Linked DNA regions of Homo sapiens: region 1 is linked to region 2. The links come from fine-mapping of genetic effects on gene expression. A gene starts in region 2. The other region holds a variant in brackets. All regions are shown on one strand. Distances are between the middles of the regions.

What was found. PIP is the estimated chance that this variant, and not a neighbour inherited with it, causes the effect.
Region 1: its variant is fine-mapped to the expression of SCFD1 in whole blood (INTERVAL, PIP above 0.99).

Annotation. Positions count from the first base shown.
Region 1 is chr14:30,726,588-30,731,970 of GRCh38, reverse strand. The region is part of intron 23 of SCFD1 (sec1 family domain containing 1); the gene reads right to left. Among named protein-coding and RNA genes, the nearest start is that of SCFD1, 110 kb to the right of the region's middle. The variant G/A (reference allele first, on the strand shown) is at 3,114.
Region 2 is chr14:30,619,376-30,624,758 of GRCh38, reverse strand. It overlaps SCFD1 (sec1 family domain containing 1), which reads right to left and starts at 2,440. Exons shown (of 25, transcript NM_016106.4): 1 at 2,360-2,440. The coding sequence starts at 2,420. G2E3 (G2/M-phase specific E3 ubiquitin protein ligase) reads right to left here. Exons shown (of 15, transcript NM_017769.5): 15 at 4,695-5,383. RefSeq lists enhancers at 2,158-2,837, 1,907-3,106.

The DNA of each region.
Region 1 (5,383 bases), 110 kb before region 2:
CTGAATGGGCAAAAACTGGAAGCATTCCCTTTGAAAACTGGCACAAGACAGGGATGCCCTCTCTCACCTCTCCTATTCAACATAGTGTTGGAAGTTCTGGCCAGGGCAATCAGGCAGGAGAAAGAAATACAGGGTATTCAATTAGGAAAAGAGGAAGTCAAATTGTCCCTGTTTGCAGATGACATGATTGTATATCTAGAAAACCCCATTATCTCAGCCCAAAATCTCCTTAAGCAGATAAGCAACTTCAGCAAAGTCTCAGGATACAAAAATCAATGTGCAAAAATCACAAGCATTCCCAAACATCAATAATAGACAAACAGAGAGCCAAATCATGAGTGAACTCCCATTCACAATTGCTTCAAAGAGAATAAAATACCTAGGAATCCAACTTACAAGGGATGTGAAGGACCTCTTCAAGGAGAACTACAAACCACTGCTCAACGAAGTAAAAGAGGACACAAACAAATGGAAGAACATTCCATGCCCATGGATAGGAAGAATCAATTATCCTGAAAATGGCCATACTGCCCAAGGTAATTTATAGATTCAATGCCATCCCCATCAAGCTACCAATGACTTTCTTCACAGAATTGGAAAAAACTACTTTAAAGTTCATATGGAACCAAAAAAGAGCCTGCATTGCCAAGTCAATCCTAAGCAAAAAGAACAAAGCTGGAGGCATCACACTACCTGACTTCAAACTATACTACAAGGCTACAGTAACCAAAACAGCATGGTACTGGTACCAAAACAGAGATATAGACCAGTGGAACAGAACAGAGCCCTCAGATATAATACCACACATCTACAACCATCTGATCTTTGACAAACCTGACAAAAACAAGAAATGGGGAATGGGTTCCCTATTTAATAAATGGTGCTGGGAAAACTGGCTAGCCATATGTAGAAAGCTGAAACTGGATCCCTTCCTTACACCCTATACAAAAATTAATTCAAGATGGATTAAAGACTTAAATGTTAGACCTAAAACCATAAAAACCCTAGAAGAAAACCTAGGCAATACCATTCAGGACATAGACATGGGCAAGGACTTCATGTCTAAAACACCAAAAGCAATGGCAACAAAAGCCAAAATTGACAAATGGGATCTAACTAAACTAAGGAGCTTCTGCACAGCAAAAGAAACTACCATCAGAGTGAACAGGCAACCTAAAGAATGGGAGAAAATTTTTGCAATCTACTCATCTGACAAAGGGCTAATATCCAGAATCTACAAAGAACTCAACTTTACAAGAAAAAAGCAACCCCATCAAAAAGTGGGCGAAGGATATGAACAGATACTTCTAAAAAGAAGACATTTATGCAGCCAACAGACACATGAAAAAGTGCTCATCATCACTGGCCATCAGAGAAATGCAAATCAAAACCACAATGAGATACATCTCACACCAGTTAGAATGGCAATCATTAAAAAGTCAGGGAACAACAGGTGCTGGAGAGGATGTGGAGAAATAGGAACACTTTTACACTGTTGGTGGGACTGTAAACTAGTTCAACCATTGGGGAAGACAGTGTGGCGATTCCTCAAGGATGTAGAACTAGAAATACCATTTGACCCAGCCATCCCATTACTGGGTATATACCCAAAGGATTATAAATCATGCTGCTATAAAGACACATGCACAGGTATGTTTATTGCGGCACTATTCACAACAGCAAAGACTTGGAACCAACCCAAATGTCCATCAATGATAGACTGGATTAAGAAAATGTGGCACATATACACCATGGAATACTATGCAGCCATAAAAAAGGATGAGTTCATGTCATTTGTAGGGACATAGATGAAGCTGGAAACCATCATTCCCAGCAAACTATAGCAAGAACAAAAAACCAAACACTGCATGTTCTCACTCATAGGTGGGAAATGAACAATGAGAACACTTGGACACAGGAAGGGGAACATCACACACCGGGACCTGTAGTGGGGTAAGGGAAGCGGGGAGAGAAAGCATTAGGAGATATACCTAACGTAAACGATGAGTTAATGGGCGCAGCACACCAACATGGCACATTTATACACATGTAACAAACCTGCACGTTGTGCACACGCACCCTAGAACTTAAAAAAAAAAAATGCCTTTCGTAACAGCATAAAAATATACTCTGAAGACTACAAAATATTATTGAAAGAAATTAAAGATATAAAAGGAAAACATCCCCTATTCATGGACCAGAAGCCTTAATTAACATTAAGATGAAAATACTCCCCAAACTGATCCAGAGATTTAACACAGTCTTTGTAGACATTTGCAAATTCTAAAATTCATAAAAAATTGCAAAAGACCCAGAAAAGCCTAAACAATAAAGTAGGACTCACATGTGTCCTGATTTCAAAAACATACTAAGGAAGCCATGATGATCAACACAGTGTAATACTGGTGCAAGAAAAGACCTATAGATCCAAATAATGGAATTGAGAGTTCAGAAATAAACCCATACACATCAAGTGATTTTCAACAAGGTTGCCAAAAAACCATTACATGGGGGAAAGAATAGTCTTTTCAACAGATGGCAGTGGAACAACTGGATATGCAAAAAGATGAAACTGGATCTTCATACCATATTTTAAAATTATACAATTCTTAGAGGAAAACTCAGGGTCAAATCTTTATGACCTTAGATTTGGCAAAGGATTCTTAGATATGCCACGAAAAGCCCAGGCAACAAAAGAAAAAAAGAGATACACTGGACTTCGCCGAAATAAACTTTTGCACTTTAAAAGACACCATCACAAAAAGAGAAAAGACAACCCAGAGAATGGGGGAAAAAATCTGGAAATCATGTATCTGATACGGGATTTGTATCAATATTACATAAAGAATTCTTACAACTCAATCATAAAAAGGCAAAATAACCCAATTAAAAATGGACAAATGGACAAAGGGGCCAGGCGTGGTGGTTCAAGCCTGTAATCCCAACACTCTGGGAGGCCAAGGTGGATGATGGTGGTGTGCACCTGTAATCCCAGTTACTTGGGAGGCTGAGGCAGGAGAATCGCTTGAACCCTGGAGGCAGAGGCTGCAGTGAGCCAAAATTGCGCCACTGCACTCCAGCCTGGGTGACAGAACGAGACTCCGTCTCGGGGG[G/A]AAAAAAAAAAAAAAAAAAGGGACAAAGGATCTAAACAGACATTTCTCCAAAGATATACAAATGGCCAATACACATGTGAAAAGATTCTTGACTTCGTAAGTCATCAGGAAAATATAGATAACAAAGCAAGTGTTAGTAATGAAGTGGAGAAGTGAGAACCCTCATGCACTGCTGGGGGGAATGTAAAATGGTGCAGCTGCTTTGGAAAACAGTCTGTAGTTCTTCAAATGATTACAGTTACTAAGTGACGCAACAATTCCACTCTTAGGTATATACCTAAAAGAAGTGAAAACATACATTCACACAGAATTATGGTGGCCATTATCTATGGTTCCACGTGGACAGCAACAGGTCTTGTCTAGAATACACACTCATTTGGATGTGTATACCTGTTAGCTGCAGGAATCACCTTTAACATTATTAGAGGCCGCAGCAGAAACAATTTCAATTTAGACCTCCTACTTATATATCATTTGATAAAGAAACTCACTTTACTGCAGGTGCAGTTCAACAATGTGCTAACAACCATTATCTACCACAGACTAACTTATATACCTTACCAAACACAAAGTATTGGAGCAAATGTTTGAAACACTTTTCAAAGTGGTAATGAGAGACAGAGTTGCATGATGGAATGTGTGTCAAAACATAAAAGGCATGAAATTAAAGGGGGACTCAACACTAAACAGATTATAGAGATACTTCAGGAAAAATAAGGGAGGGGTGGAGTAATAACACAGGAACTGATAACAATTTCCTCCATATTTCTGAACATTTTTCTTTTTCTCTGACTGATCATGTAGAACATGGATATGGATTACATTTACAAGCTCAGGAAGACGGATCAGTTGCAAACATGACATGAAGATAATACCTCTAAATATAACTGTCTGAGGAATGATGGAATGGACTGTTTTTATTTTCACCTATCTAAGCTTGGAATTAATGTTTTTTTTTCATCTTTCCTCACATGTGGACAAGACAGTCCTATAAACTTGTAGTTATCCACCTCAACATCATGTGACTGGGAATGGACAAAGGGGAAAAGCACTGGCCAGTCTCACATTGCTGTCAGCTCCACAGGTAAGTCCTCTTGCCGAATGTGATGGTCTCCTAACTCAGGGATCAAGGTCTGGGTAAAAAACTAACAACAGGAGAAAGGAGGAAAAGTCTTTACTCTCAGAAAGGGAGCCAATAAATGAATAATGCAAAAAAGAAAGGTAACATTATTTTGGTATCTCGTAAGAGCCTGGGAGCAAGAGAATGCTCTTAGCTATATTTACAGATGCCCATAAGACCTGATGAAATTGTCTCCTTTATTTGAAGCTGTCTAAGATGGGTTGCAGGAGATTTAATAATTTAATCTGTAGAATTTTGTCTGAATCTTGATGATGCTAATAACAACATCTTGAGGATAAACACAGAATAATTCTAATGCTTGCCTTTTGGCTCCCATTGGTTTTATCTATTGTAGAGAACCACTTTTGGGAGGCAAAATTAGGACACGTTGTCTCTGAAATGCACACAAACGATTTTGTTGAACAACGAAGTCACAGACCACCACGTAACTATTAAACGCAGTTATGATTTGTTAAGAAAGGTGTCCAGAAACACAGACATAAAATAACTGCTGCATTTCCAACTACTCATAGTAACATGTGCTCTAATGCCTATGTACCTTGTTTCTGTGGGCGGAAGGCACTAAGGTTAAAAAAATTCTTAGTACTGAAACCAAGTAAAGGATAACTAGGTGGGCTTACACACTTATAGCCCTGATCTTTTGCTGAGAATAATTACTACTCATAAGACACTGTCTCGGGGAACTGAAAACTTTTGTCTTCCCTCGCCCGCCATCTCTCAAAAGGTTCCTGAAAGATTTTGGATCCAAAAGGTATATTCAAACTATATTCAAGCAATAAAAACTCAATGGCAACAACTTATTTAATGGTTAAACCAATTTGGGCAGAAACACTGGCACAGTTCTATGAGTCCTATGGTAAGCCCGATTTGCCTTTAATGAAAAGAGACATACTGAGCAAGACGACTTAATGACCTACTGGTTGTTGACAAGAAATGTTATTTCAGGAGGAAGGGAAATGGTGGCAAGCAGCCTGGAAAAATGATAAAACAAACTCAACAGTTACATAAAGATGGGAAGACACATGTACCCAGACTCAAGAAGGATTAAGTACGCTCCTCAATTAAAAGCCAAGGTAGTGCAAGGAAAATGGCCTGGTATCTTGGCAGAGCGAGCAAAAAGAATGAATTT
Region 2 (5,383 bases):
TGTAAGATCACTTTGGCTTTTATCATGGTTGAAATGGGAAGATGCTGGAAGATTTTGAGCAAACATATGGCATGATCAGTTTGGGTACTGTGTGAAAAATAATGAAGGAGAACAGGATTGTAAAAGCAAAGAGACCAAATAGGTTACTGCAGAAATTCATGGTGGACAGGACCTCGGAATAGCAATGACAACAGTCAGATCCTGGATGTATTTTCAGAGTAGAACTGACAAGATTTACTGAAAGATCTTACATGAGACATGAAAGAGACAAGTCAAGAAAACTTCAAGGTTTTTGACCTGAACAACTAAAAGGACGGAACTGCCATTAACTGATATGGAGTAGACTGAGTTCAGATGGGACGGCCAGACTAGGGATATAAACCTGGGAATCATCAACATACAGATAATACTGAAAGCTAAGGCGCTAGATGAGAACACTAATGGGACCCTGCAATGTTGAGAAGCTGGGAAGATGTGCAAGAACCTGTAACGAAGACGCATTCAATGAAGAACAACAGTAACACGGAGCAGGAGGCAACTGATTCTACCTATTGAACTGAAGGTATGGATAGAGGGGACAGTGAACCAGGAAGAAAGGAGATGGCTTGTGGGATGACCTTCAAAAGATCAATAAAGATTTTTCAGGAGACCAATAAAGATTTTTCAGGCAGGCAAAGCAAGAAACAGGCACGTTAGTTTACCTCTATCTTACTTTCCTCACCTGTAAAATGGAGATAATACATAATCACCTAATGCAATGCCTAACAATAGTAAATGCTCAATAAATGCCAACTATTATCTCATCCACCCAAATATTCTAGTATCTAGAATATTTAAGGACTGTGAGTTATCTCCCAAAACATTCTCCATAGGCATGAGGGAAATAGCTAATTCTGCATTATAATATATATACAAGGATTTACCTTCCTCTGAAAATAAGGCAGAATTCAATGACAGTAAAAATTTGATAAAAAATAGATCTAGCACTACCTAGTAATTCTGTAAAATCTTACTATGTTTATTTCTGCAGAAATACAAACGATTAGATTTTAATGATCTACAAAATTTCTGCATACAAGTTTACGGCCACGCAAATTTATTTTTCAAAAAGCTCTCTTGTATTGGTACAGTTTTACTGACACGTTATTTTAATATGTAGTATAGTCATCAGAAACACAGTATTAAAACAAATGGAGCTTCCATTTGTTTAAACATATACAACGAATGGCAGGTATGCCCCAAATCTTATTTGAACTTCCCTATATTTAGTTATGCCTGACTTCACCTGATAGGTTATACTAAATTATTTACTGGGAAAAGCAGAACGCAACTCAGTATCTTTTGTGTGTCATTACTAAATTGAAGTCTATCACTTTTTCTTTAAATGCCAAAGGAAGGAATCAAGTACAGCCCAAATCCCTTCTGTAGGTCATATGAATTATAAATTTATTTTCCTATTCATATTTATATCCAACAGAGCATAATTTCAGGAAACAGAATTCCAAGTATGCACATTCTTGATGCCTTATTTCTATTAGCTCCTCAGAATAAATTGCTTGAAAACTTTTAAGACAACTAGTTAACAAGTATAAACCTTTAGTTTGTAGCTAACAGGTATAAACCAAGTTGTCATGAGAAGTTTTCAAGTAAGGCAAAACTAATTTCTAAGACGGAAAAAAACCCAAAACTCAAGAGAAGAATATGTGCCTTTTTACATTTCTCTGCATAAATAGAAGCTATATAAACATGCTCTATTGAAGATAAAATATTATTTTAAAACAATGTGTCAAACAATTAAAATGAGAAAGCTATTAATTCATTTGTTTTGCCATTCTTCAATGCCTTCCAGCAAGCTGAAGGAGAAAATGTTTATCACCAGGCATTTTTCTGCAGGTACCCCCAAAAGACTGGTCCGAAGTAGAGAAGTGGCGCAAAGCAAGCCGCTGTGAAAATACCTAAATTCTCTGAGTGTCAGAAAATGGGAGTTCTCTTAAAAATCAAAACCAGGAGAACTGAACCACGCACAGAAACTCGGAGACCTCATAGGTGGCAACATAGATAAGAAGCTATCAGCTGCTAGATCTTGTTGTGATGGCCTTCTGATGCCCACTAGGAAGGAGACAAGAGCAGGGCCGTAGCAATCCGCCCACCGCTGAAGCTCCTTCTCCTGCACCACAGGAGGAACCGAGTCCTCAAGCTAATGGCAACTTCTCCCCAAAAACTCAAAGGGGAGGGGCTCTTGATGTTCTAGGGACTGGATTAAACTCCTGGAGATCGGTCTCTGAGCTGCACGCACCAGAGGAGAAGGATGTCGTCGGGGCAGTCACGAAGCTTCAAGGAGAAGAGAATAAGTCAGTACCTGTCTGCCTTTCCCGAATACTGGCTGCTGCTGCTGCTGTCGCTGCCGCCGCCGCCGCCATCTTGGCTCCCACGAGCCACTGCCCGGCTGGGGAGCGGAGCGGGGGGATGACGTGGCTGCCCTTACCGCCCCGGAAGCAAAGCCCGGAAGGGCGGGGCCAAAGGGTGTGCCTGAGTTCCGGACCCCACCTCCTCCAGGAAGACCTCCACTCTCGGTAGAACTGGGAGACCCGGTGCAGGTTAATTCAGTGGCCCGTAATGTTAGGCGAATACTAAGAGTTTTTATCCTACCGAATCAAGCCACACTCTCTCAAATGGTAGCAACATTAAATTGAGCTGTTAGGGTAGGAGCGTGTAGTGCTAAGAACCTAATTACTGAACTGTTGGTTTGGTGACTTACAGAGCACTTAAAGGGTGATAATGCTCTAGGAGTATAAGGACCACAGGACTGAAGTAAATGAAGCTCCTGAAACACAGGCAACATTTTAACGTTAGCTCTCGTTTCTCAGTGCAGCAGGAGTCTTCCCTTTGCTCCTTTCTCCAGAGAAACGGAAAGCATTGGAGCATTACTCTGATCTGGCATATTTCTCAGTCGCATCTCTTTAAAAAAAAAGGTGTAGCTTTATGGTGGCGTTCTGCCGGCATGGACACGGGATCCAGGGAGGTACAAAATGAGAAATTAGCATTTCTCCTCTTTCCTTGTAGTAATTGCAAAATCACCTTGCCGTGGGAAGGAAGTCAAGCAGTAGTGGGGTGTGTTGCCTAGGCTGGAGCGCGCAATCAGGGATCACTGCAGCCTCAAATTCTGACGGTCAAACGATCCTCCTGCTTCAGTCTCCCAAGTAGCTAGGGACTACAGGGGCACACCATCAGGCCAGGCTGATGTGCTGGTTTTTGTTGTTGTTTTGTTTTTGAGATAGTATCTCACTGTCTGTCGCTCAGGCTGGAGTGCAGTGGCAGAATCTCGGCTCACTGTAGTCTCGACCTCCCGGACTCAAGCGATCCTCCCAAACTATCCTTCCACCTCAGACTGCCCACTAGTTGGGACTATAGGCAGGGGTCACCACGCCCGGCTAAATTTTTTTTTTTTTTTTTTGTAGAGACGGGGATTCACCATGTTGGCCAGGCTGGTCTTGTGCTGGCGGTTTAATGTACACTTGAAGCCACGTGACCGCAAAATATATGGGATAGATGATTTCTAACTTAATCCATAGATTTTACTGTATGACCAAAATGGATACACAATGACACCTCATTTCCCGAGTTCATTGATGACGCTTCATTATGAAGTTGCACCAAATTCTGAAATGAAATCACTCTGTACCTCAAAAGCTTAACTTTCACAATTATATAAATGAAATGGTTAGCCTAACGATTATATATTGTTTTATAGTGTGAAACACTGGCTTTTTTCATTAATAAAAATTTATTTTTGTGACATTTAAAACAGGTTATCTTATTACATAATCTCTGCCGGGTGCGGTGGCTCACGCCTGTAATCCCAGCACTTTGGGAGGTAGAGGTGGGCAGATCACCTGACGTCAGTAGTTCGAGACCAGCCTGGCCAACATGGTGAAACCCGGTCTCTACTAAAAATACAAAATTAGCCGGGTGTGGTGGTGGGCGCCTTTAATCCCAGCTACTGGGGAGGCTGAGGCAGGAAGAACTGCTTGAACCTGGGAGGCGGAGGATGCAGTGAGCAGAGATCGCGCCACTGCACTCCAGCCTGGGTGACTGAGTGAGATTCTGTCTCAAAAAAGAAAAAAAAATTATGTAATCTCATTTTTATAGCTAATTGGCACATTCATTAAGAAATTAACTGGAATACATGTGTGTCTTCAGTACTATTACTAATATTTTGAAGGAATCTTCAATGATCTAGGTGTGTTCCAACTAAACAAATTATTTCTGCCCTATGGGAAAGTTCTACTGCATTCTACAGTCTCTATGAAATATAAAATGTCTGAGAGCCCAATTTTGCTCATTTGGGTACTTCCACTTTCAAATGCAAATCCATCATTGAGCCACTTCAGTTCCATCACAGATTCTCTCCCAAGACTATGAGTCATGTTAAAACCACGAAGACAATTTTAAAATTGATGTACACTGCATATATATGAAATGATAAAAACTCCTGACCAAGTGCACAGAATGTGGGCAATAAATTTATAGAAAAATACACCTCACAGAAGAACAGCAACCATAGACAAATAGCCCTTGTAAGGCTGAGACTGAATAAGGTATTTGTTTTATTAGAATCAGAAAGACTGAAAATAATCTATGGCTACAGATTGTTCATTAACCTAATTTACTATAGCCATTTATCTGAGTCCAGATTTTTGGCTTAAATAATTTATTCTGGTAAGCTATTTTACATTAGAGGATACATAGTTTTAACACAGATTCCCTCATTTCTATAGGTTCCTGGGTGTCAGACACTAACTGCTTGCTTATAGGATCTCTCAAATGTGGAGAGTAAAGGAATCTTGTATCTTTCAGTTTCGTCAGAATCTTAATCTTATTAAATCCCAAAAAATTACTTAGTTTAAATAGGCAGTTTACCTTTAGTGGCATAAACACATTTATTTATTTATAAAACATTGTTATAAATGTCACGCTTTTTGGTTAATCTGGCAGTCTTTAAAAGGGGGGGAAATAGGCTGACATATAAACGATCACCTAGCATAATACCTGGCATAGTGTAGGTACTGGGATATGTTTATGAATTAGAAGAGATAATGGTCAAAATCAGAACTTGAAAACTGAGTCTCTTCAAGACAATCCAAATTTTCCTAAACCACAGATAATATACATTCAAGTAATTCATCATTAAATGGGTTATGTTTTGTATTGCATTACTTGAAGCATGAAACTTTGTATTGCATTACTTGAACCATAAAAACTAGTTTAATAGCTTATTTTAAAGTAACAATGCAGTACATGATAATCACTATATAAAAGAATTACATGTTTATAATGTAATGATTTTGTTCTGATCATTTTCTTATAATGACTGAATGCTAAA